2 separate regions of the Homo sapiens genome follow, and region 2 is linked to region 1. Evidence: fine-mapped QTL for protein levels in blood plasma. Region 1 holds a variant in brackets. A gene starts in the other region. All regions are shown on their reverse strands.

Region 1 (11,700 bases):
AAGCTTTGCTTTTATGCTTTATTGTCAGTTTATATCTATTTGATACAGAGTTCCAGGTAAGGAAGACAAACCTCCAACTATAATTTTCTTGTGGGAAAGTGCAGCTTCTGCTTCATGGCATGGTTTACATACTTGAAAAATAAAGCCTATCTCAGATAATTTTATCAGAAAATTACTTTTCCATGAAGGTTTTTTTTTCTAAGTATGTTAACAAATAAAAGAAGAAAGACAGGAAAAGCTGGAGAAAATTACTCAAAATGCCTACAAAGATTGTATCTGGGCCAGGCACAGTGGCTTACCCCTGTAATCTCAGCACTTTGGGAGGCTGAGGCAGGCGGATCACTTGAGATCAGGAGTTTGAGACCAGCCTGGCCAACGTAGCGAAACCCCGTCTCTACTAAAAATAGAAAAATTAGCCAGATGGGGTGGCGCATGCCTGTAATCCCAGCTCTTCGGGAGGCTGAGGCAGGAGAATCACTTGAACCCTGGAAGTGGAGTTTGTGGTGAGCCGATACCGCACCATTGCACTCCAGCTTGGGTGACAGAGACTCCATCTCAAAAAACATTGTGTTTGGGGCCAGGTACAGTGGCTCACTCGTGTAATCCCAGCAGTTTGGGAGGCCGAGGCGGGTGGATCACGATGTCAGGAGATCGAGACCATCCTGGCTAACACGGTAAAACCCCATCTCTACTAAAAATACAAAAAATTAGCTGGGCGTGGTGGTGGGCGCCTGTAGTCCCAGCTACTTGGGAGGCTGAGGCAGGAGAATGGCATGAACCCAGGAGGCAGAGCTTGCAATGAGCCGAGATCGCGCCACTGCACTCCAGCCTGGGACAGAGTAAGACTCTGTCTCAAGAAAATATATCTATATCTATATATAAAATGCATTTTCTGTGTGGCTAGCTTTACATCATTGGGCCAGAATTTTTATGTAGGAATACATATTTGACAGTATTATACAAATCAATAGGAAAATAGAATTTGATGTAGACAAATTACATTATGGACAACTTTAAATACATCTGTTCATTAAGTCGAGTGTGCCAACACTTAATCAGAATTTTCTCTGTTCCTTTACTTTTCTCATGAAGCTATAAAACTGTCAAGCTAGACAAAAGATTTATAGTTAGACGAGATTTTAAAAGGAAACTTTTATTATAAAACATGTATTTGAAGTTAAAGTTCCTTAGCAAATTTTTTGCATGAATGTTTTTAAGATTTTGTATGTTTTCTTCCTTCCTTCCAGCCAATACAAGAGTTGCGGAAAGTTGTTCTTAATATCTTGCAAGACTCAAACAGAACCACAGAAGGTACTATTATTTTTGAATTTAAATTCATCTTCTCTAGCTGTACCAGTAAAAATCATCCAGGACATATAGGAAAAAGAAGAAAAGAATCATCCCCTGAAATGCTTCTCACTTCTTGGTTTCCATGACCTGGCCCTTTCAGCCATTGTCATCAGCTGACTTATTTGTATTATTACAAGTAAATGCACTACTCAATACTGAACAAAGGTTGTTTCCACCAAAACAGCCTAGACTGGAGTGTCCCACTTCCTTGGAATCCTAGATGGCAGAAGACAAACAGCTCTTTGCTGGAAGAGACTGAGGCAGAAAGGAGAAATGCCTTAAGTTACATGTTTAATCATAATAAACCCACCAACATACTCATCTAAATTTGTGTTACGCTTTAAAAATAGCTATCTCAGGAATCTCTTCAATTGGATGACCATCACTGTCAGTGGTCATAACCTTTAGAAGACTCTTCTATGAGACATATATTGTGCCAAACACGAGTGACATTATAATTGCTTACGATACTTGTTATATGAATGGAAAGAAAAAACAAGCTATCTTTAGAAAATAAATTGGATTCTTCTTGTTATCTTAAAAGGTGACAAATCTTTTTCCTTTAATAGTAGATTTAGGCTGCATACGGTAGCTCACGCCTGTAATCCCGGCACTTTGGGAGGCCAAGGCAGGTGGATCACCTGAGGTCAGGAGTTTGAGACCAGCCTGACCAACGTGGTGAAACCCTGTCTTGTCTTTAAAAAAAAAAAAAAAAAAAAAAAAAAACAGAAAAGAAAAATTAGCCAGTTGTGGTGGTGCGTGCTTGTAATCCCAGATACTCAGGAGGCTGAGGCAGGAGAATCGTTTGAACCCAGAAAGTGGAATTTGGAGTGAATGAAGATCACGCCACTGCACTCCAGCCTGGACAACAAGAGCGAAACTCCATCTCAAAAAAAAAGAGTAGATTTAACTGGGGAACAATCAAGTCATGTAGCTAAGTAACCCACTACATGTGGTAAGAAGGACATAAAATAGATAATAGTAGATTCTTTGAGAATGAGGCTACAATTCAGTTATTTGGTTAAAACATGGTAGTGTTTTAAAAGGAATAAAAAGAGAAGACAGGAATCCATGCCTTTGTTGCACCCTATTGACCTCACTTAGGGTGTCAGCCTCTAGCCACAGTGTGCCTGGCACAGTCTGATTTCCTTCCTTTCATTTTGGTGATTGTGTTTGGGCTACCATGAAAACTATTAATGCAAGACAGTTTTTGCCCACTGTCCAAGGCAGTAACCATGTGGTCATCCTGGGGAGGAATGGGATTGGGAGGTTGTGTGAGTTAACCTTAGTGAGTCAAGAAAATTGATCCAAGGTGTGGTGTAAGGGTAGAAGGCCAGTGATTAGTCCCTAAGAGAGCTCTCTTGAGAGTGAATAGGAGACTGGAGATATGTTCAGAGTCTTGAAAGGGTGTCAAGAATCTACGTACAGCAGTCTCGGGGGCTGGCTACGAGGGTAGCCTGATGTAGCAAGACACTGCTACAGAGCTTAACGTGAAAAAACAAGTTATAAGTCACACTTCAAATCAATCACTATTCAGTATGTGGAGCCCATGAAGATCACTGGGAAATCATTGTATGTATGTATTTTTCATGTTATTGACTTCTAGTTGAAGTATTAAATTGGTAAATCTTACTTTCCTTCATGATCTTACATACACAGGGATTACTTCTGACTCTTTAGTTGCTGAAACTAGTATAACATCAGTGGAAGAGCTGGCCAAGAAGATGGAATCTGTGAAGTCTTGTCTTTCTCCAAAAGAGAGGGAACAAGTCACGGCGACACCCCGAATAGCCAAGGCAGAACAGCATAATTATCCTGGTATCAAATTACAGATTGGTCCAATCCCTAGGTAAGCAAACTCTAAAGCAGACTTTGTGTTCACAGACTTAATTCTAGTCCAAGTCTCGATTTTTCCTTCACAGATCTAGAGTAACTGAGACCTGACCTGCAGTGAGGAAGGTGCTGCCAGAGTCAGGAGGGGTATTAGAATGCATTCACCCCCGTCCTATGGTCTCGCCTACCTTTTCACTCTCATTTGTCCTGCACTTGCAGATCCTATCTGCCTTTCCTGCAAGTCCTGACACAGCTGGGTATGGTTGGGGTGATAAGATGGGGCACAAAGTCCCAAGCGGGAGCAAACTCTGTAGCTGTGGGAGAAAAGGGACAGTGAATACCCCTCTAAGAACGGAGAGCAGTGGAGTATGTACTAGTCAGAGACTGCTCATAAAGTCAGAAACGTTTTATTTTTTAACAAATATAAATTTAAGGCAGAATCCATAGTAATTTAAGGAGCTATGTCAGGGCGTCAGTGTCATTTTCTAAAATGTGAGTGTAGCACCACTCTTCTCTGATCATGATCTGGAAAGAATTCCAAACAAGGGCACCAAGACAACAGTTCTTTGTTTTAGTTACCTGGAAAGCACAGCCGAATCTCTTCCAATCCTAAACTCTCTGACACACACCATTTTCCCACTACAGTCAGCTCATAAGAGGATGAAAACAGTTCAGTTCATAAGTGGATGAACTACAGTCAGCTCATAAGTAGATGAAAACAGTTAATCCAAAAACTACCTCTTAATGGCTCTAGAATTCACAAAACCACTAATTACATTAGCCTAAGGAAAACTAGCAGGCAAGTCTGCCAAGATTGCACCATTGCACTCCAGCCTGGGCAACAAGAGTGAAACTCCATCTCAAAAAAAAAATGAAAAGGCTGGGCACATGGTGGCTCATGCCTGTAATCCTGTCACTTTGGTAGGCCGAGGCAGGAGGATTACTTGAGCCTAGGAGTTCAAGAGTGGCCTGGGCAGCATAGGGAGACCCCAACTCTATGAAAAATAAAAAATTAGCCAGGCATGCTGGCATACGTTTGTGCTCCCACCAGCTTGAAAGGCTGAGGTGGACAGATGCCTTGATCCTAGGAGGTTGAGGCTGTAGTGAGCTGTGATTGCACCACTGGACTCTAGCCTGGGCAACAGAGTGAGACCCTGTCTTTAAAAAGAAAAAGCTAGAAAGAATCTTGGAATTCATTAATTCAACCAAATTTGGTATTAGGCCCCATTTCCTTAAAACTTGTCATCTGTTTTGAAAGTTTATAGAATAAATGAACACCAACTGCCAAATATTTGACTTCAAATAAAAACCACACTTCATACTTCATTCAATAAATCCTTATGCTTACACCATCCAAGAACAGATGGACACCACCCAGTACATTCTGGAAATCAGGGAAAAGCCTTTTTTTTGAGACTGGGGTCTTGCCATGTTGCCCAGACTGGAGTACAATGGCATAATCATAGCTCACTGCAGCCTTGACCTTCTGGGCTCAAGCAGTCCTCCCACTTCACCCTCCTGAGTAGCTGGGATTACAGGTGTGTGCCACCATGCCCAGCTAATTTTTATATTTTTTGGTAAAGATAGTGTGTTGCTATGTTGCCCAGGCTGGTCTCGAACTCCTAGAAAAAGCCATCTGAAGATGAAAGCTGCTCTAGACATATCTCTTGTATCACCCTATGTTAAAATGTCTTCCCTGTTTTATTATTGAATAAGAAACAAAAAATAATAAAGATAATTTTTTTAAATGATAAGGTTTTTAATGCATCTCTTGCTGTCTCTCAGAATAAATGGGATGCCGGAAGTGCAAGACATGAAATTTATCACTCCTGTACGGCGTTCGTCGAGGATTGAGCGAGCAGTGTCCCGCTACCCAGAAATGCTGCAGGAACACGATTTAGTAGTGGCTTCTCTTGATGAACTGTTAGAAGTGGAAGAAACAAAATGTTTTATATTC[C/T]GTAGAAATGAGGCGCTGCCTGTAACATTGGGGTTTCAAACCCCTGAATCATAATTTCTTGATGCTTTTTTTAAAAAAGGTGTTTCAGAACCAACATAAGACAAGAAATATTCTTGTCCAAGTGACCTGGAAAAAAAGAGAGGCATCATGGATGCAGATTATGGACGCTCAGGACTTAAGTAATTCACTGGGCTTACTCTCAAATTTTCTCTCCCCATGGGAAAATCTTTGCTTTATGTGTTTAAGACCAGTTTGCCAGTTTTACAGTATACATAAATTTCAAACTTTTGAATATTTACCCTACAACTATGATAAATATTTATACTTTATTGATCTACTTTAATCCCAACATAGTTTTTTATATCAGAAGGTTGGTCCCACAATATAATGGGACTTTTCTTTCTGCATCCACCTTAGCAGAGGGCAAGTTCTTTCATCGTGGAAGATCTGAACTTTGACGCTAGCTTGACAGGCTGAATGGACCTTGACAGATGGCCAAGTCAAAACCCCTCATTTTACAGATGAGTTTATGCTAGCTGTGCCTTTGCTCAGAGATCATAAATTTATGTGTGATCTTTGACTTTCATCACAGTATCCTTGTAAATGAGAGAGAATTCTTGTTTTTTCTATGCCAGGTCTCCTCAGATGAAACACAATCCTGAATTGGCATGGTCGTCTAGCTTTTATATTCAAACCTAGTTTTGCATTTGTTACTCAGAAACACTTCAAGTAACAAAAGGGGGGCAGGGGAGAGGGGTGGGGAGTGGACACTTGCTTCTTCAGTTCTTTGCTCAGCTAGGGTATAGCTGGCCTGAGAAGGCAGTGCAAGCCCCAGAGACTGTTGTAGGTTGCTTTTTCTTCCTCCTGGGCAACTATTTGTGGAAAGGTTTTACCTTAGTCATTATGTAAATATAATTGTGTAGAAAAACCTAGTCAACACATTTTAAATTTTAGCTTTCTTAATATTTAAGTATTATCTTAAAACAACATTAAATTTCTATTAGTTCCTGCTTGTTTATCTTATTTATTATAGAAAACCATGATAATGGCTTTGCATAGAGAATTAGGAGTTTGTCTAAGGATATACCAGTTGGCTGTCCTAAGAAACAAGGAGCATTCATTACCAAGGAGAATGGACTTTGATCAAAGGTCTATCAGCCTCATCCAGGAACTAGATTTTTTTAAGGGAAGCAGATCTATTTCTGAAAGTCAGATTTATAATAAAGCTCAAAAAACTGAGCTATAAACCTGTAATACCAGCAGACTTTCAATAAGAGACTCTTACAACTCAATTGTGGAAAAACTAATAATTAAAAATGGGCAAAGGACCTGAGCAGACATTTCTCCAAAGAAGACATAAGAAATGGCCAGTAGGTATAGATATGAAAAGGTGTTCAGCATCATTAATCATAAGAATAATGTAAATTAAAACCACTGTGAGCTATCACCTCACATCTATAAGAATGGCTATTAACAAGACATGAGATAAATGTTGATGAGATTGTGGAGAAAAGAGAACCCTAGTACACTGTTTGTGGGCGTGTAGACTGGGGCAGCCGTTATGGAAAACGGTATGGAGGCTCCTAAAGAAATTAAAAATAGAACTGTTATCTGACCCTCTTCTGAGTAAGTATGTACCCAAAGAAGATGAAATCACCAGCTGGGCGCAGTGACTCACACCTGTAATCCCAGCACTTTGGAGTGGGTGAATCACCTGAGGTCAGGAGTTCAAGACCAGCTTGACCAACATGGTGAAACCCCGTCTCTACTAAAAATACAAAAAGTAGGCGGGCATGGTGACGGGCACCTGTAATCCCAGCTACTTGGGAGGCTGAGGCAGAAGAATCACTTGAACTCGGGAGGTGGAGGTTGCAGTGAGCCAAAATTGCGTCACTGCACTCCAGCCTGGGTTACAGAGCAAGACTCCATCTCAAAAAAAAAAAAGATGAAATCATCACCTCATAAAGATATCTGCACTCACATGTTTGTGGCAGTGTTATTCTCAATAGCCAAGATGTGGAAACAACCTAAATGCCCATCAATGGACAAATAAAGAAAATACGGCATATGCATGCCGTGGAATAGTATTCATCCTTGGAAAAGAGGGAGTTCTTGCCATTTGCCACAACATAGATGGACCTGGAGAACATTATGCTAAGTGAAATAAGCCAGACCCAAGGAAAAATACTGCATGATCTCACATATGGAATATTTAATTTTTTAAGAAAGAGCTCAAGTACACAGAGAAAGTGCTTACCACAGATTGGGGAAGAGGAAATGGGGAGATGCAGGCCAAGGATACAAAATAGCAGATAAAATGAACAAGTCTAGAGATAGGGCTAAAGTTAATACAATTGTATTAGGGATTTTTGTTAAATAAGTAGATTTTAGCTGCTATTATCACAAAAAAACTGAGATGATAATGTTAATCTGCTTCACTATAGCAGCCATTTTATTATCTATATGTATCCCATAACATCATGTTGTAAATCTTAAATATACCTAATAAAATAAAATTGTCACCAAAATGCAAGAATTAGAGTTAACTTTACCTGTGAAGCCAAGTAATGCTCAGAGGGCTGCTTAGAGATCACAAAATCTGAACATAGGACGTAGAGGCATCAAATATTCAAAATCACCAGGCTTAGAGAGTCTGAAGTGAGTCCTGTGTTAGGAATATTCTTGCCTTGAACCTCAGACACTGTCCTAAGCCCGTCGACCAGGTTCTCATGATCGATCCTGCAGTGCCATCCATTGCTTGTGCACTTACTTTTTTTCTGGCTTCTAGAGTGGTCCATCTTTGCTACCTAAATCCCTCCCCTGACCCCAGGCCTAGGAGTCAGTTGTCTCTTTATGGTGGTTTTATGTCTTTCCTCAAAACCATTGTCTTGACATTACAGCTTAGTTCCCAAAAGAGCAGTTTTATTTTCTTTATTGCTAGTTCCTTGCAGGATGTCTCACAGTATTACCCTGGGTACCAACAATAACAGTGTAGGTTGAACTATTGGTGTCTAATAATTATAAGTTTCAAAATGGCACATTGGAGGTTTCGATCAGCCTCGTCAGACTATAGAGTCTTGCAGACACAAAAGGTTGTGGAAATGATTGTGGATGGTACTGCAGCTGCAGAAAACTGCACCCTAATTCTGGGACTCTTTGTAGATACTCAGTAACCCTCTTGTTTAGTAAATAGCTGCTCCTAGACATAGGGAGCAGGAAGGAGGGAGAGTGGGAAGGAAAGAAGGTGGGCCCTTAATGATTTGGGAAGGAGATTCATAGGGAATTGTAGTGGAAATATGGGCCTTTGCAAAAATAAGTCTAATGTTGTTCGGGGATGGCTTTTTAGAGGAGGTGAGTGTAAAGCAAGTTTTAAAGAAAGAAAAAAAGGGGGGGGAGGATTATATATAGCATCTCTGTGCAGAATGACCATGAACCAGAAGACAGAGGAGAGGCATGATGGTTCACATTTGTTAGTGCTCACTATGCCAGGCACTCGGCTGAGTCTTTTACATACTATAAAATACTGTTCCTGAGGCTGGGCATGGTGGCTCATGCCTGTAATCCCAGCACTTTGGGAAGTCGAGGCGGGTGGATCATTTGATGTCGGGAGTTTGAGACCAGCCTGGCCAACATGGCAAAACCCTGTCTCTACTAAAAATACAGGCGTTATCCAGGCGTGGGGGTACGCACCTGTAATCCCAGCTACTCAGGAGGCTGAGGCAGGAGAACTGCTTGAACCTGGGAGGCAGAGGTTGCAGTGAGCCAAGATCATGCCACTGCATCCCAGCCTGGGTGACAGAGCAAGACTCAGTCTCAAAAAAAAAAAAAAAAAAAAAAATGTTCTTGCCTCCCTGGCATGTACTCCCTTTTCCAATAAAAGCACCCCAGACTGGGTGCGGTGGCTCACGCCTATAATCCCAGCACTTTGGGAGGCCGAGGTGAGCAGATCACTTGAGGCCAAGAGTTCAAGACCAGCCTGGCCAACGTAGTGAAACCCTGTCTCTACTAAAAATACAAAAATTAGCCAGATGTGGTAGAGTGTGCCTGTAGTCCCAGCTACTTGGGAGGCTGAGGCAGGAGGATCACTTGAACCCGGGAAACAAAGGGTGCAGTGAACTGAGATCACACCACTGCATTCCAGCCTAGGCGACGGAGCAAGACTCTGTCTCACAAAAAAAGCACCCCAATTTCCCTACTACCACCCATTTCCTGCTGACAATCTACATGGTTAAGAAGAATGGACTCAACCCCAGTATGCGCATGTGACCCAGTCCTGGCAAAGCCAAACTTGGCATCTCCCTGGCCAGTGGCATTGATTGGAGGATGGGATAGTGTCACAACCAGTGAGGCATCATTTCCCAGACTTTCATTAGAAAGATGCTTCCTGGTAGAGTTGCTGAAAAGATAAAGATAGAAATCTGGAGTTTGGGAACAGCCATCTTATAACCTCATGGACAAAACCTGCCAGAGAATAGTACCAACATGGAATAAACTTGAGAGTTGGAGAGAGCAAGCTATGTCCAATGACATTGATTTGACTCCCTGGTTAATGCTATGCCTGGAGCTGGGCTAACCCTGGACTTTTTAGTTATATGAACCAATAAATTCTGTTTTTTCTCAAACCAGTTTCATTAGGTTTCCTTCAGTTGCTAAAGAAAAAATCCTGACTAATGTACACACACACACACACACACACACACACACACATATATATAATAGCATAGAAAACACTTATTTAGTGCTTACTCTGGCCAAGCTCCATGTCCGTTATCTCACTATATCCTTATAATAGCTTTATGACATGGTTATGGAAATAGAGTAGTTAATAAATGTCAGTCCTGCAATTTCAAAGTCAGGGCTGTCTGGCTCCAGGTTCAGAACTTTTAACTCCTATCTCTATTTAAAGTAAGGAAATGAGGACTAAGGTGATGATAAGGAAACACATCTGAGCAAGATAAATTATTGAACTGTTCCCAGTTTACCAAGCAGGAATCACTGTGACAGCCAAAGTACTGTCATTTATTCTACAAATAAATGATCACATTTTTACCACTAGTTCACTACCACAGAGATGCTGCTTCTGTTCTCTTCATTTCCTGACTGCTCAAGACGATGCCAGAATGAGGATGTCAGTTCAGCTGCTGTCACTAGTCCCAAATGGAAATGCATCTCTCTCACATCAGCCATCCAAGTGACAGCCCAATGCTAATCTACTGCCAAGCCCAGCCTATGTCTGTCTTGTGACTCCACCATCCCTTGGAGGCAGCCTCGTCCATGTGGCCAAAGAAGGCTCCCACCCAACTTCACTCTCCAGCCAGCTGGAAGGGGGAAGAGAGGAACGGGAAGGTATGCCCCTCCTGAGGTCACGGATTGGAAGTTGGACCATTACTTCTGTCCAGAATTTAGGGGCCAGAACTTGGTCCCATGTCCCCCCCTCCCACCCCATCTAAAGAAGCAGGGAAATGTGTATCAGATGGCCACATGCCCAGCTAAAAATTCTTCCAGAAATGGGAGATGAATGTCAGTGTCTGCACACAGTCTTGGAAGCAATGGTGTGCTTCTGTCCCTAAGGTATAGATAAAACAGGAGTGTAGAGGTGACATTAAGTTTAAAAAAAAAAAAAAACTACCCAAATAGAAGTATCTGTCCTACCTCCTACCCATGAGGTAGGACAGATACAGAATTAGGAGTTTGTCTAAGGATATGAGTTTTCTCATGAATGTGTCTGGGTAGGAGGTAGCATTCTAATCCAAAGCCCTATATCCTTTCTCCACTTTCTTTTTTCTCATATTCTTTGTCCTGCCCTTTCCCTGCAGTTCTACAAGAGTAATAATAAACTGGGTGACATGTGTCTTTCAATAAAATACACAGGTACGTAGATGCCAGAGACACAACGGTGAGCCAAAAGGACATTACCTTTTGGAGCTGAGAGTCTAGTGAGGACACGTGTTAATCTAGGAACCACAAATGCAAGACTCCAAGTCCTGAGAAATAGAGGCCTATGAGCGAGGGACTAAAGAGAAACTGGTCTAGTCAGGGATCTTCGCTGAGGGGAGAGCGGAGGTAACAGGGAGAAGAGGCAGGGAATGGGCCAGACATAGGAAAAGCACAAGAAAGGCCCTTTGGCCACCTCTCTCCTTTCCCTCGCTAGGATCCCCTAAAGCATTTCTGCCAGATTGTTTATCCCTCAGTCCTTTTCTGTATCCTCTCTACCCTGGGTAGGAATTCTGAGATTTGACTTTTGTAGTGTTAGCTACCACACTATATTTCAGGACCTTTCCGGAAAAGTATGGGCTCTAGGGTCTGAGCAGTTTTTCTGATAAATACTATCCTTTAGCTCTTGACTAAGAATCAAGCGTTTAAAGACACAGGCCAGTGAGACCTGGGATTTACTGGAGAACCTGCCCCTGTAAAGACACAGGCCAGTGAGACCTGGGATTTACTGGAGAACCTGCCCCTGTAAAGACACAGGCCAGTGAGACCTGGGATTTACTGGAGAACCTGCCCCTGTAAAGACACAGGCCAGTGAGACCTGGGATTTACTGGAGAACCTGCCCCTG
Region 2 (11,700 bases), not on the chromosome of region 1:
GGTCACCCAGGCTGGAGTGCAGTGACGCGATCTTGGCTCGCTGCAACTTCCGCCTTCTGGGTTCAAGCGATTCTCCTGCCTCAACCTTGCAAGTAGCTGGAATTACAGGCATGCGCCACCATACCCAGCTGATTTTTGTATTTTTAGTAGAGACAGAGTTTCACCATGTTGGCCAGGCTGGTCTCGAACTCCTGACCTCAAGTGATCCGCCTGCCTCGGTCTCCCAAACTGCTGGGATTACAGGCATGAGCCACCATGCCCAGCTCTAATGTTTTTTTAAAATATCAGATATTACCTTTGCAGTAAGGAAGAAAATAAAACAATAGAAAATAAAATACAGTAGTCCCCTTGTTATCCTTGGGGGATACATTCCAAGACTCCCAGCAGAGTACTGAAGGAGAAAATTGTGATCCACAGTTTTTCTACACAGCTAAGTAGTAATTCACACATGAAGGCAAAAGGAAGAGTTTAGTCTTGTTTTATGTAAATTTGAATTATGTCTATTTTCTATTTAAAATAGTATAATGTAAAAATATGTTTAATAATTTCCAGGGTCTTTTTAAAAAAATTAAGAATCCCTATTTAAGAAATTGTCTTACACCAAAGCTATATGACAACACTTTAGCTAGTAAGCAGAAATATTCACTATTGTTTGTCTATATTATTTGAACTATGCTATTGCATTCATGCACTTTCTGTAAGTGATTTTTATGATTAGTATGCTATTTTTATATTCATGGTTATTATAATTTAAAATATTTTTATATGCTATAACAATGTCAACTCATCTTTTATTAAGTGGTTGTGTTTGTGTTAATGCTGAAAAACAGCTGAAAACAAGCTAGATGTGGTATGCCAATTCAGGAAAGGACACTGATAATAATAATAGCAGTTAATACATTTTGAGTGCTACATATTTTTCTAAATGATTAATATGCATTACCTCTTTTAATACCTAGTTTATAACAGCCCTATGAAAAAGGGGTCTGAGACCAGCCTGGCCAACATGGTAAAACCCCATCTCTACTAAAAATACAAAAATTGGCTGGGCGTGGTAACACATGCCTGTAATCCCAGCTACTTGGGAGGCTGAGGCAAGAAAATCGCTTGAACCCAGGAGGCGGAGGTTGCAGTAAGCCGAGATCATGCCACTGCACTCCAGCCTGGGTGGCACAGAGAGACTCCATCTCAAAAAAAAAAAAAAGTACTATTATTATCCCCAGTCTATAGATGAGAAAATAGCCTCAAAAAGTTGAGGTAACTTGTTCATAAATAACTGAATGTGGGCTGGGCACAGTGGCTCACGCCTGTAATCCCAGCACTTTGGGAGGCCAAGGCGGCAGGATCACCTGAGGTTAGGAGTTCAAGACCAGCTTGGCCAACATGGCTAAACACCATCTCTACTAAAACTATAAAAATTAGCCAGGCATGGAGGCACGCACCTGTAATCCCAGCTACTTGGGAGGCTGAGGCAGGCGAATCACTTGAATCCAGGAGGCAGAGGCTGTGGTGAGTCGAGATCACACCACTGCACTCCAGCCTGGGCTACAGAGCAAGAATCCATCTCAAAGATAAATAAATAAATAAATAAATAAATAAATAAATAAATAATCAAGGGTGGATTTGAACACAGGCTGACTCTAGAGCCTTCCCTATTAACAACTATGCTCTACTGTGTTTCTAATGCTGAGAAAATGAAAAGCAACATTAAAAAATAATAACAGATAAGGATTTATGAGCTCCAAGAACACATTCCTTTTACTTTACCCATATTCCTGAGGGAAAATTAGTCTTTCTTTACATATGTTAAATGAATTAATGGAAAAGAAGGAAAGAATATTCCAGCTACTTGGAAATTAATTAAAATACAGTAGCCCCCTCACCTTATCCTTGGGGGATATGTTCCAAGACCCCCAATGAGTGCCTGAAACTGCAGATAGTACTGAGCCCTGTATATATTGTATTTTTTCCTGTACATATATACCTATAAAAAAGTTTGATTTATAAATTAGCCACAGTAAGAGCATCAACATTAATATATAGAATAATTACAACAATATTCTGTAATAAAAGTTAAGTGACTGTGTAGTCTCTCTCTCTTCAAATATCTTATTGTACTATACTCACTCTTCTAGTGATGCTGTGAAATGATAAAATGTCTATGTGATGGGATGAAGTGATGGAGCAAGATGATGTGAGATTTCATCATGCTACTCAGAAAAGTGCACAATTTAAAACTTATGAATTATTTCTAGAATTTCTCATTTAATGGGGGACTACTGTAAAGACTTTCAAAGGTTTTAAAGACTAGTCATGGTTGTTAAAGAATTTAAATGCAGGATTATATCTAAATAAATATATAATTTCAAGATAAAATGCAAATGATAATTCTCAAAAAAAGAAGTTGAATAAGATAAAATAATAATCTAAAAGTAATAAACTGGCTATAAATTCCCCGATTATACCAACTTTTATTGGTAAAACTAGGAAATAGGAGAAAATTCTTGAAAGAAAGTTACAGTGATTTTCTCATGTTACAAAGACAGGAGCTAAAAAAATATTATTGATGGTTGATGTAAATAATTAGAAAAATTCAGGTAAAAATCTTTTTAAAGAATTTTAAGAATTAATATCAAAATGTAAAACAATGTATTCCTTTCAAATTACTTAAGGAAGGCCAAGCACCGTGGCTCATCCCAGTAATCCTAGCACTTTGGGAGACCAAGGCAGGAGGATTGCTTGAGGCCTGGAGTTCATGGCTGCAGTGAGCTATGATTGTGCCACTCGACTCCAGAATGGTGACAGAGTGAGACCCATCTCATTAAAAAAAACAAAAATGGCTTCAAAAAGTTAAATAAAATATATTTAAAGTTAGAAAGAAATCAAAGAAAACATAAAGAATCAGCAAGGAAGCATTTTAAAAATTACAGATTACCAGTTATACAGTAAATATATTTTATTAAGCTTACCCATTAGAAAGCTCCTTTGATATGATTTTCTTAAACATCTACAAGTGACACACTTAAAACAAAGATTTAGGAAGCTTAAGAGGAAAAGATAAAGACAAAAAAATAGGAATTACATCAAAGTAGAATCTCAGAGGTAAAACTATCACATGAGCAAAGAGGATCACTTTTTTTTATGATCCCTAATACAACTCATACAACTTCATGTACTAAGTAACAGTGCTAAAATATATATAAAGTAGCTTTCCACCATGGCCACCATTGGAGGGCAGCAGCCATGACACTGCACTACCCTATAGCTGTGGGCCTCAACAAGGGCCACAAGGTGACCAAGAATGTGAGCAAGCCCAGGCACAGCCACTGTGGGCGCCTGACCAAACTCACTAAATTTGTGTGGGACATGATCCCAGAGGTGTGTGGCTTCACCCCTAACGAGTGGCGTGGCATGGAGTTACTGAAGGTCTCCAAGGTCAAACAGGCCCTCAAATTCATCAAGAAAAGGGTAGGGACAAACATCTGCACCAAGAGAAGGCAGGAGGAGCTGAGCAACGTCCTGGCTGCCATGAGGAAAGCAGCTGCCAAGAAGGACTGAGCCCCCTGCCATCTGCCTATAATGAAAGCTTTGCAGAATAAAATAAATATAAAATAAAGTAATAAAATTAAATTAAATTTAAAAATAAAATAAAGCAAAACAAAATAAAATATATAAAGTAAAAATTGTTGAAAATGCAAAACAATATGGACATAAATACAGAAACACAGGGAAACTTCTTTAGGCACTCATTTACAGGTAAAAATATGAAATTGAATAAAGGTCATCTGGTGTCAAATAATATAGGCCTTATCTATTATAAGAGTTTGGACTGAAAAGCAAAAGTGAGATAATAAAAAAAAGCTTTTCAGAATATTATTTTGTATAGATATGTGAAGGATGAAGGGTGGGTGAAAGGACCAAAAACAGAAACACAGTCTTCCTGAATGAATGACAATCAGAATTCCGCTGCCCAAAGTAGTCCGACAATTAAATGGATTTCTAGGAAAAGCTACCTTAAGAAGGCTGGTTACCATCTGGGTTTTCACAGTGCTTTCACATTCTTATCACTTTCAACACTACTGCAAATAGGAAGGGACAGTAACATTTAGAAGAGAACAAAACAGAAACTCTTGGAAGCAGGAAAGGTGCATGACTCAAAGAGGGAAATTCCTGTGCCATAAAAGGATTGCTGGTGTATAAAATGCTCTATATATGCCAATTATCAATTTCCTTTCATGTTCAGCATTTCTACTCCTTCCAAGAAGAGCAGCAAAGCTGAAGTAGCAGCAGCAGCACCAGCAGCAACAGCAAAAAACAAACATGAGTGTGAAGGGCATGGCTATAGCCTTGGCTGTGATATTGTGTGCTACAGTTGTTCAAGGTATGCAGTAATTTTTATTTCTCAACCTATAAGTTCCTTTTCTAATGTTTCAAATGTCTTTTCTTCCACTTTTATCCTAAAAGACATGATAAAGTTTTATTTAATCTCACAGATTAGAAGTTACTACAGCTTTAGCACAGAAATGGTGGACATGTTTAAGATACTAGAGATGATTATTGAAACTAGAAATTATGAACTTCATGGAATTTTTGATTTGGCTAGAATATCTGGCAAAAGCCTTTAGCAACAGTTTTAAATGTCTGTTAAGAAGATTTTATATAGCGATCATGTTAACAAGCTTCCTGGGAAAATATTTGAGGATAAAATCAAGGGGGCAAAACAAGCTTCACCTCCAATAAACTTCCTTCATGCTTCCCATTTGTTAGCGATTTGCTTACTAATTTAATGAGAAAATAATCAACATCTTACTTAACTTTTCCCAGTAACAGTTGTGTTAAGTGCTATTTGACAAATTACTATCTTTACCCTTAATGAAAATTCTGCTCACGTTCACCACCAGCTATAAACCACAGCCATCTGTTGCAATCAGATGCATTACTAACTAATGCTATGATCTATTCTAGGCTTCCCCATGTTCAAAAGAGGACGCTGTCTTTGCATAGGCCCTGGGGTAAAAGCAGTGAAAGTGGCAGATATTGAGAAAGCCTCCATAATGTACCCAAGTAACAACTGTGACAAAATAGAAGTGATGTAAGTAATGAACTTGCTGAAGATGACAATGGTGCAGGCTTTTTTGTTTATGTATTTGCATCTAAACTTTAAGACTCTTGTATGTTCTTTTAACAGTATTACCCTGAAAGAAAATAAAGGACAACGATGCCTAAATCCCAAATCGAAGCAAGCAAGGCTTATAATCAAAGTAAGTTACCAAATTACTCCCATGTTATAATCTGTTTTATCCAAGACAGATCTTTTGAAAAAGAAAATAATGTGGACAACTACAGAAAGATTCTGCTATGATCCTGTGTGAAATATTCTGTTAAGGGGTCCTTGGTTGTAACAGCTTCCCCTTCTTACTACATGTTTTTAGATGTCCTGGGGGAAACAAGAACAGCCCAAGTAAATAAAACTCTTGTTTTCTTATTCCAGAAAGTTGAAAGAAAGAATTTTTAAAAATATCAAAACATATGAAGTCCTGGAAAAGAGCATCTGAAAAACCTAGAACAAGTTTAACTGTGACTACTGAAATGACAAGAATTCTACAGTAGGAAACTGAGACTTTTCTATGGTTTTGTGACTTTCAACTTTTGTACAGTTATGTGAAGGATGAAAGGTGGGTGAAAGGACCAAAAACAGAAATACAGTCTTCCTGAATGAATGACAATCAGAATTCCACTGCCCAAAGGAGTCCAACAATTAAATGGATTTCTAGGAAAAGCTACCTTAAGAAAGGCTGGTTACCATCGGAGTTTACAAAGTGCTTTCACGTTCTTACTTGTTGCATTATACATTCATGCATTTCTAGGCTAGAGAACCTTCTAGATTTGATGCTTACAACTATTCTGTTGTGACTATGAGAACATTTCTGTCTCTAGAAGTCATCTGTCTGTATTGATCTTTATGCTATATTACTATCTGTGGTTACGGTGGAGACATTGACATTATTACTGGAGTCAAGCCCTTATAAGTCAAAAGCATCTATGTGTCGTAAAACATTCCTCAAACATTTTTTCATGCAAATACACACTTCTTTCCCCAAACATCATGTAGCACATCAATATGTAGGGAGACATTCTTATGCATCATTTGGTTTGTTTTATAACCAATTCATTAAATGTAATTCATAAAATGTACTATGAAAAAAATTATACGCTATGGGATACTGGCAAAAGTGCACATATTTCATAACCAAATTAGTAGCACCAGTCTTAATTTGATGTTTTTCAACTTTTATTCATTGAGATGTTTTGAAGCAATTAGGATATGTGTGTTTACTGTACTTTTTGTTTTGATCCGTTTGTATAAATGATAGCAATATCTTGGACACATCTGAAATACAAAATGTTTTTGTCTACCAAAGAAAAATGTTGAAAAATAAGCAAATGTATACCTAGCAATCACTTTTACTTTTTGTAATTCTGTCTCTTAGAAAAATACATAATCTAATCAATTTCTTTGTTCATGCCTATATACTGTAAAATTTAGGTATACTCAAGACTAGTTTAAAGAATCAAAGTCATTTTTTTCTCTAATAAACTACCACAACCTTTCTTTTTTAAAAAAAGATCTATATACTTTCCAGGACATTTGAGATGCCTTTAACAATTTTGCCTTATATTTCAGAAACATACACCTATCCGTCATCATGAAAAACTGTTTAGAAATATATTTTAATGGGTAGGTGGGAAAGACAGTTGTTTCTTTTGTCGGCCTTGGGGGGTCTTGATAGTCCAAACCCCCTTCTTACTTGGAGAAAATCCCTTATGTGAGTGTTGGTGGGAGGCCAAAAGAGAGAAGCCAAAGACAGGAGATCCTCTCCTGTAGCCACAACAAGGACTCAGCCATGCTGTTTCTACCCTAGACTTTGAACTCCAGCTGGCATCACAAAGATACTATTAGTAAGAAAATTATTTCAAGCCTGGCAGCAGCAGGAGAAACAATGAAAGTCTTACAGTAGTGTCTTCCCAATGTGTGTTCCTGTAGCATGACTCTGGCTAGTCCTTCCTATCACCTAGTTCCCTTAGGTCTTTGTCCATTTTCCAAGACTTATTCTCCATTGTCCTGTGGATTCTTCAACCTCCAACTAAATTCTTTTTCTCCTTAAGATAGCCAGAGTTGGTTTCTCTGCATGTAACCAAAAGCCTTGACTGATAGCAGTACTCTCTATATAGGCACCCATACATTTGAAAAATAAAAATATTTATTATAGGATTATAATCAGATATATCTATATTGCATTATTATATAGGTTATAGATACAATATAGATTTATAATAAATTGTTATATAAATCTATATAAATATCTATATAGAGATGGGACTTCCATATAAATTCCCTGGATAGTTTTAAGACCTGAATCTGGCTGGGTGCGATGGCTCACATCTGTAATCCCAGCACTTTGGGAGGCCGAAGCGGGCGGATCACCTGAGGTCAGGAGTTCAAGACCAGCATGGCTAACATGGTGAAACCCCATTTCTACTTAAAATGCAAAAAATTAGCCGAGGCTGCTGGCACGTGCCTGTAATCCCAGCTACTCAGGAAGCTGAGGCAGGAGAATCGCTTGAACCCGGGAGGCAGAGGTTGCAGTGAGCTGAGATCATGCCATTGCATTCCAGCTTGGGCAACAAGAGTGAAACTGCACCTCAAAAAAAAAAAAAAAAAAAAGACTTGAATCTAATCTTTGACTACTTACAGTGATTTTTTTTTTAAGTCTCTTTAAAAATAAAAATTCACATAGTCAGCTGGGCATGGTGGCTCACACCTATAATCTGAGCACTTTGGGAGACCAACATAGGTGAATGGCTTAAGCCCAGGAGTTCAAGACTAGCTTGGGCAACATAGCGAAAATTCATCTCTATAAAAAATAGGAAAATTAGCTGGGTATGGTGGCACATGCCTGTAACCTCAGCTACTTGGGAAGCTGAGGTGGATGGATCACTTGGGTCTGGGAGGTTGAGGCTGCAGTCAGCTGTGATCACACCACTGCACTCCAGCCTGGGCAAAAGCCTGCCTCAAAAAAAAAAAAAATTCACAGAGTTAAGGCTGCATGATAAATTGGTATTTGTAAGAAGTATATTAAATATTATAGGCCAGTACATTATTACTGAGAAGAAAACATACACCTAAAGTTCTTCATAGCAAAATAAATATATGAAATATTAATAATTAACATATTTGAGCCAAGATCCTCCCCACCTTGGTACCTTTGCACATACTATTCTCTCTGCCCATTTCTTCACTAAGCTAATGCCTACTAATTGCTTAGGTCTCAGCTTAAATGACTTTTTCTCCAAGAAGCCTTTGAAACCACCACTTCAGCTTTAACTAGATTAGGTGTCCTATTTATTTATTTCCATAACACTCTCTATTTTTCCATCATACTACTTACTGCAATTGTAATTAATGAATTATTCCTGTGCCTAATATCTGCTCTCTCATAAGTGTAAAAGAAAGCTGCTGTAGCCCAGGCCAACAGTACAGTTTCTGGTGCATATCAGACCCTATTGAATGGCAATATAAACTAAGGGAAAAGGAATTTACAGCAGAGGAATGACACAAGGGAATGTACAGTAGTAGGAAGTATAAAGTGATTTTTAGGAATCATAATTAGATTCGTTTGGTTGGAAGGATGAAGGACATGAAACTGTAAATAACCTTGAATTTTACTCTGTACAAAATGGGGATTCAATAAATGTTTGTGAAGAAGAGAGTGACCCTATCAAAGTCATTGGAAAATATTCTGGGAATTGCATGAATGGTTGATTGAAAGTGGGAAAGAGTGGAGGAGGAAAATCAGTTGGGATTTGCTGCAATAGCTGCAATATCTCAGGTCTGTATTTCCAAAACTTCAAGGCATTCTCATATCATCTTTACAATTTTTTTTTAACATTTCTCTGTTTGATCTTCATTATATTTTTAGAAACTCTGTATACCACTTTATTTTACGTACATTTACATGAAAAGTAAACTTTCACTACTGTACATGTAAAATCGGTAATACATGCCATGGAAATAAAATGTAATGATAAAACAAAATACAATGAAAAAATACTAATATTCCCCCTGATTTAATTAATCAGAGGGATTGAAGTTAAGAAGAGAATAATTCACTGATACTAAACGTTATTATCAATGTACATGGTAGTGTCCCACACTTTGGGAAACACTGGTGTGAAAAGTAATGGGGCTGGCTCTGCAATAAGTTAAACATAATTATAGTAATTATATATTACTATATAATCCAGCAATTCCATTCCTAGGTATATACCCAAAAGAACTGAAACAGCTCTTTAAACAAAAACTGGTACACAAATGTTCATAGCAGCATTATACACAACAGCCAGAAAGCAGAAACAACCCAAATATCCATCAACAAGTGAATGGATAAAATGTGGTATACACACACAATAGATTATTCGGCCATAAAAAGGAATGAAGTACTGATACATGCTACAACATGGATGAACCTTGAAAATATGCTAAGTAAAAAAAGCCAGACACAAGGGACCACATATTGTATGATTCCATTTTATAGGAAATATCTAGAGTAGGCAAAACCATAAAAACAAAAAGCAAATTAGCTGACTGGGGTTTGGGGGAGGTGTTAATGAGGAGTAACTACTTAATGAGTATGGAGTTTCTGGGTGATGAAAATGTTCTGGAACTAAATTATGGTGATGGCTTCACAGCACTGTGAAAGTACTTAACTCCACTGAATTGTACTCTTTTAAATGGTTAAAATGGTAAATTTTATGTTATTTGTATTTTACTATCATAAAAAGAAGAAGGGCTACACTAAGGTGGTATTGGTAAGAGTAGAAATATAATGACAAGTACACTGTACAAAAATAATCAAGACAGTGATAGATTGGATGTGAAAGTTGAAGCTGAGGCCAGACACGGTGGCTCACGCCTGTAATCCCAGCACTTTGGGAGGCCGAGGCGGGTGGATCACGAGGTCAGCAGTTCAAGACCAGCCTGGCCAACATGGTGAAACCCCGTCTCTACCAAAGATACAAAAAATTAGCTGGGCATGGTGGTGCATGCCTGTAATCCCAGCTACTCAGGAGGCTGAGGCAGGAGAATCGCTTGAACCCGGGAGGTGGAGGTTGCAGTGAGCCGAGATCGCGTCATTGCACTCCAGCCTGGGCTACATAGAGCGAGACTCCATCTCAGAAAAAGAAAGTTGAAGATGCAAAAAAGAAACAAAGAACATGTTAAGGATTTGAGTCTGAATTTAAAGCAGAGAAGAGACAAGGAAAAAAGGCTGAACTTCTGAGGTCTGAAAGAATAGTTCTGTCACTAACAGAAATAGGGATATGAGGGGGAAGATGTAGTTTAGCAGAAAAAACTGCAGATTCGATTTTAAATACATGGAACTTAAGATGCCAAACACTCACAGTGACTTAAAATTTCAGGACTGTTTCCTCTAATTAGCCAAGAAGAGCTTTCAAACAAATGGAGTAGTTTTGGATAATGCTATTAGAAAAGGAAAGATTATACTTAATTATTTTTGGCTACTGAGTACAGGACCTAATATGCCCACATGGAATTAATATACCTCTTTGTATCTATTTCTGAAAAGATTTTCATAGCCAACAATTATAAATCTTTATGATATGGTCAGCACATTCTGTGGATTATAAGTAGTACACACACAAAAAAAACTGTTAGGGTTTTTTTTGGAGAAGGGGTGAATGAGGCAATTTTAGTTGCTTCTTCTTGCCTTGTCTGCAAATTTTATTAACCAGACACTGGTAATGAAATTGAGCAAGTCTGAGATTATCACATAACACTGAAACCATAGTTTCACTTAAGTACCTAAGAAGAATACGTCCTAAAAATCCTGGCACCATAAGTACAGATGTATTCATAGTTCCTTAGTGCTGCTCAATAAACTGCTACTAAATTGGAAATGCCCTAACGTGAATTATAGACTCTATATAATAAATCCTGACTTAGCATTCTTCTTCAAATTGTTCACAAAGACAAACTGTCAATAAGAAGTTGAAGAAAACTGAATGATAATCTAAAATATGGAATAACAGGCACTACTGAACTATATCATATCTCAAGATTCCTCTTCTCAAAAGAAAAGACAACCAATGATGAATCAATTAAAATTAAAACTAGACATTTTCTAAAGATTTTGATTAAAAATGGAACAAAGTATCACAAAATTCTAATTTATTTTGTTGAAATATCTTATTTATGGGAAGGAGAAAGAAATGCACCATACTTCCCCCAAACACATTTACTTTATTATAATGTCCTCCAATTTTGTCTCTTCCTCCAAATGATGAAATCTGCCATATTTGTAAAAGTCCTCTCAAGTGCGCGAGTTCAGAAACACTGCATAGCCTAAAATGTATCCAAACAGAAGCTATTCTGAGCCTCTGCCTCCTCCAATGCCATGATGATTGTTAGGGTCTACCACCCACTTTGCCAGCACTCAGTTTGCCCTCTGCTTAGGCTGGCTATGAAGGATGAGACACATGGGTAATTGAAAAGTATGTAACCAGTATTACCAAACACTGTGAGCTCGGGGAATCTTTTGAGAGCTCAGAGTGAAAACTGTGAAGGGGAAGCTTTGCCCTGCTCTCCCATACTTTCCAAGGCATATTCTGCACCAGCTGAGG

Direction of the effects. Positions count from the first base shown, and alleles are read on the strand shown. Strength reflects both the effect of a copy and how common the allele is.
For the plasma level of the protein whose gene starts at base 4,238 in region 2, T is the high allele of the variant in region 1 and C is the other (weak association).

What was found. A credible set is the group of variants that fine-mapping cannot tell apart. PIP is the posterior inclusion probability: the model's chance that the variant is causal. The UK Biobank Pharma Proteomics Project read protein levels with antibody pairs (Olink). The fine-mapping took linkage between variants from a reference panel, not from the people measured, so its PIPs are less certain.
Region 2: it holds the start of CXCL11, and the variant in region 1 is the best candidate, but not a certain one, in a credible set for the plasma level of the CXCL11 protein (UK Biobank, PIP 0.69).

The regions. Positions count from the first base shown.
Region 1 is chr2:112,732,317-112,744,016 of GRCh38, reverse strand. It overlaps NT5DC4 (5'-nucleotidase domain containing 4), which reads right to left. Exons shown (of 17, transcript NM_001393655.1): 17 at 4,922-5,104. The coding sequence ends at 5,081. CKAP2L (cytoskeleton associated protein 2 like) reads left to right here. Exons shown (of 9, transcript NM_152515.5): 7 at 1,248-1,311; 8 at 3,010-3,199; 9 at 4,969-7,668. The coding sequence ends at 5,194. Among named protein-coding and RNA genes, the nearest start is that of NT5DC4, 17 kb to the right of the region's middle. The variant C/T (reference allele first, on the strand shown) is at 5,141.
Region 2 is chr4:76,028,608-76,040,307 of GRCh38, reverse strand. CXCL11 (C-X-C motif chemokine ligand 11) reads left to right here and starts at 4,238. Exons shown (of 4, transcript NM_005409.5): 1 at 4,238-4,381; 2 at 4,966-5,092; 3 at 5,189-5,261; 4 at 5,492-6,626. The coding sequence starts at 4,321. The coding sequence ends at 5,515. It also overlaps a transcript of ART3 not described here and the pseudogene RPL36P8.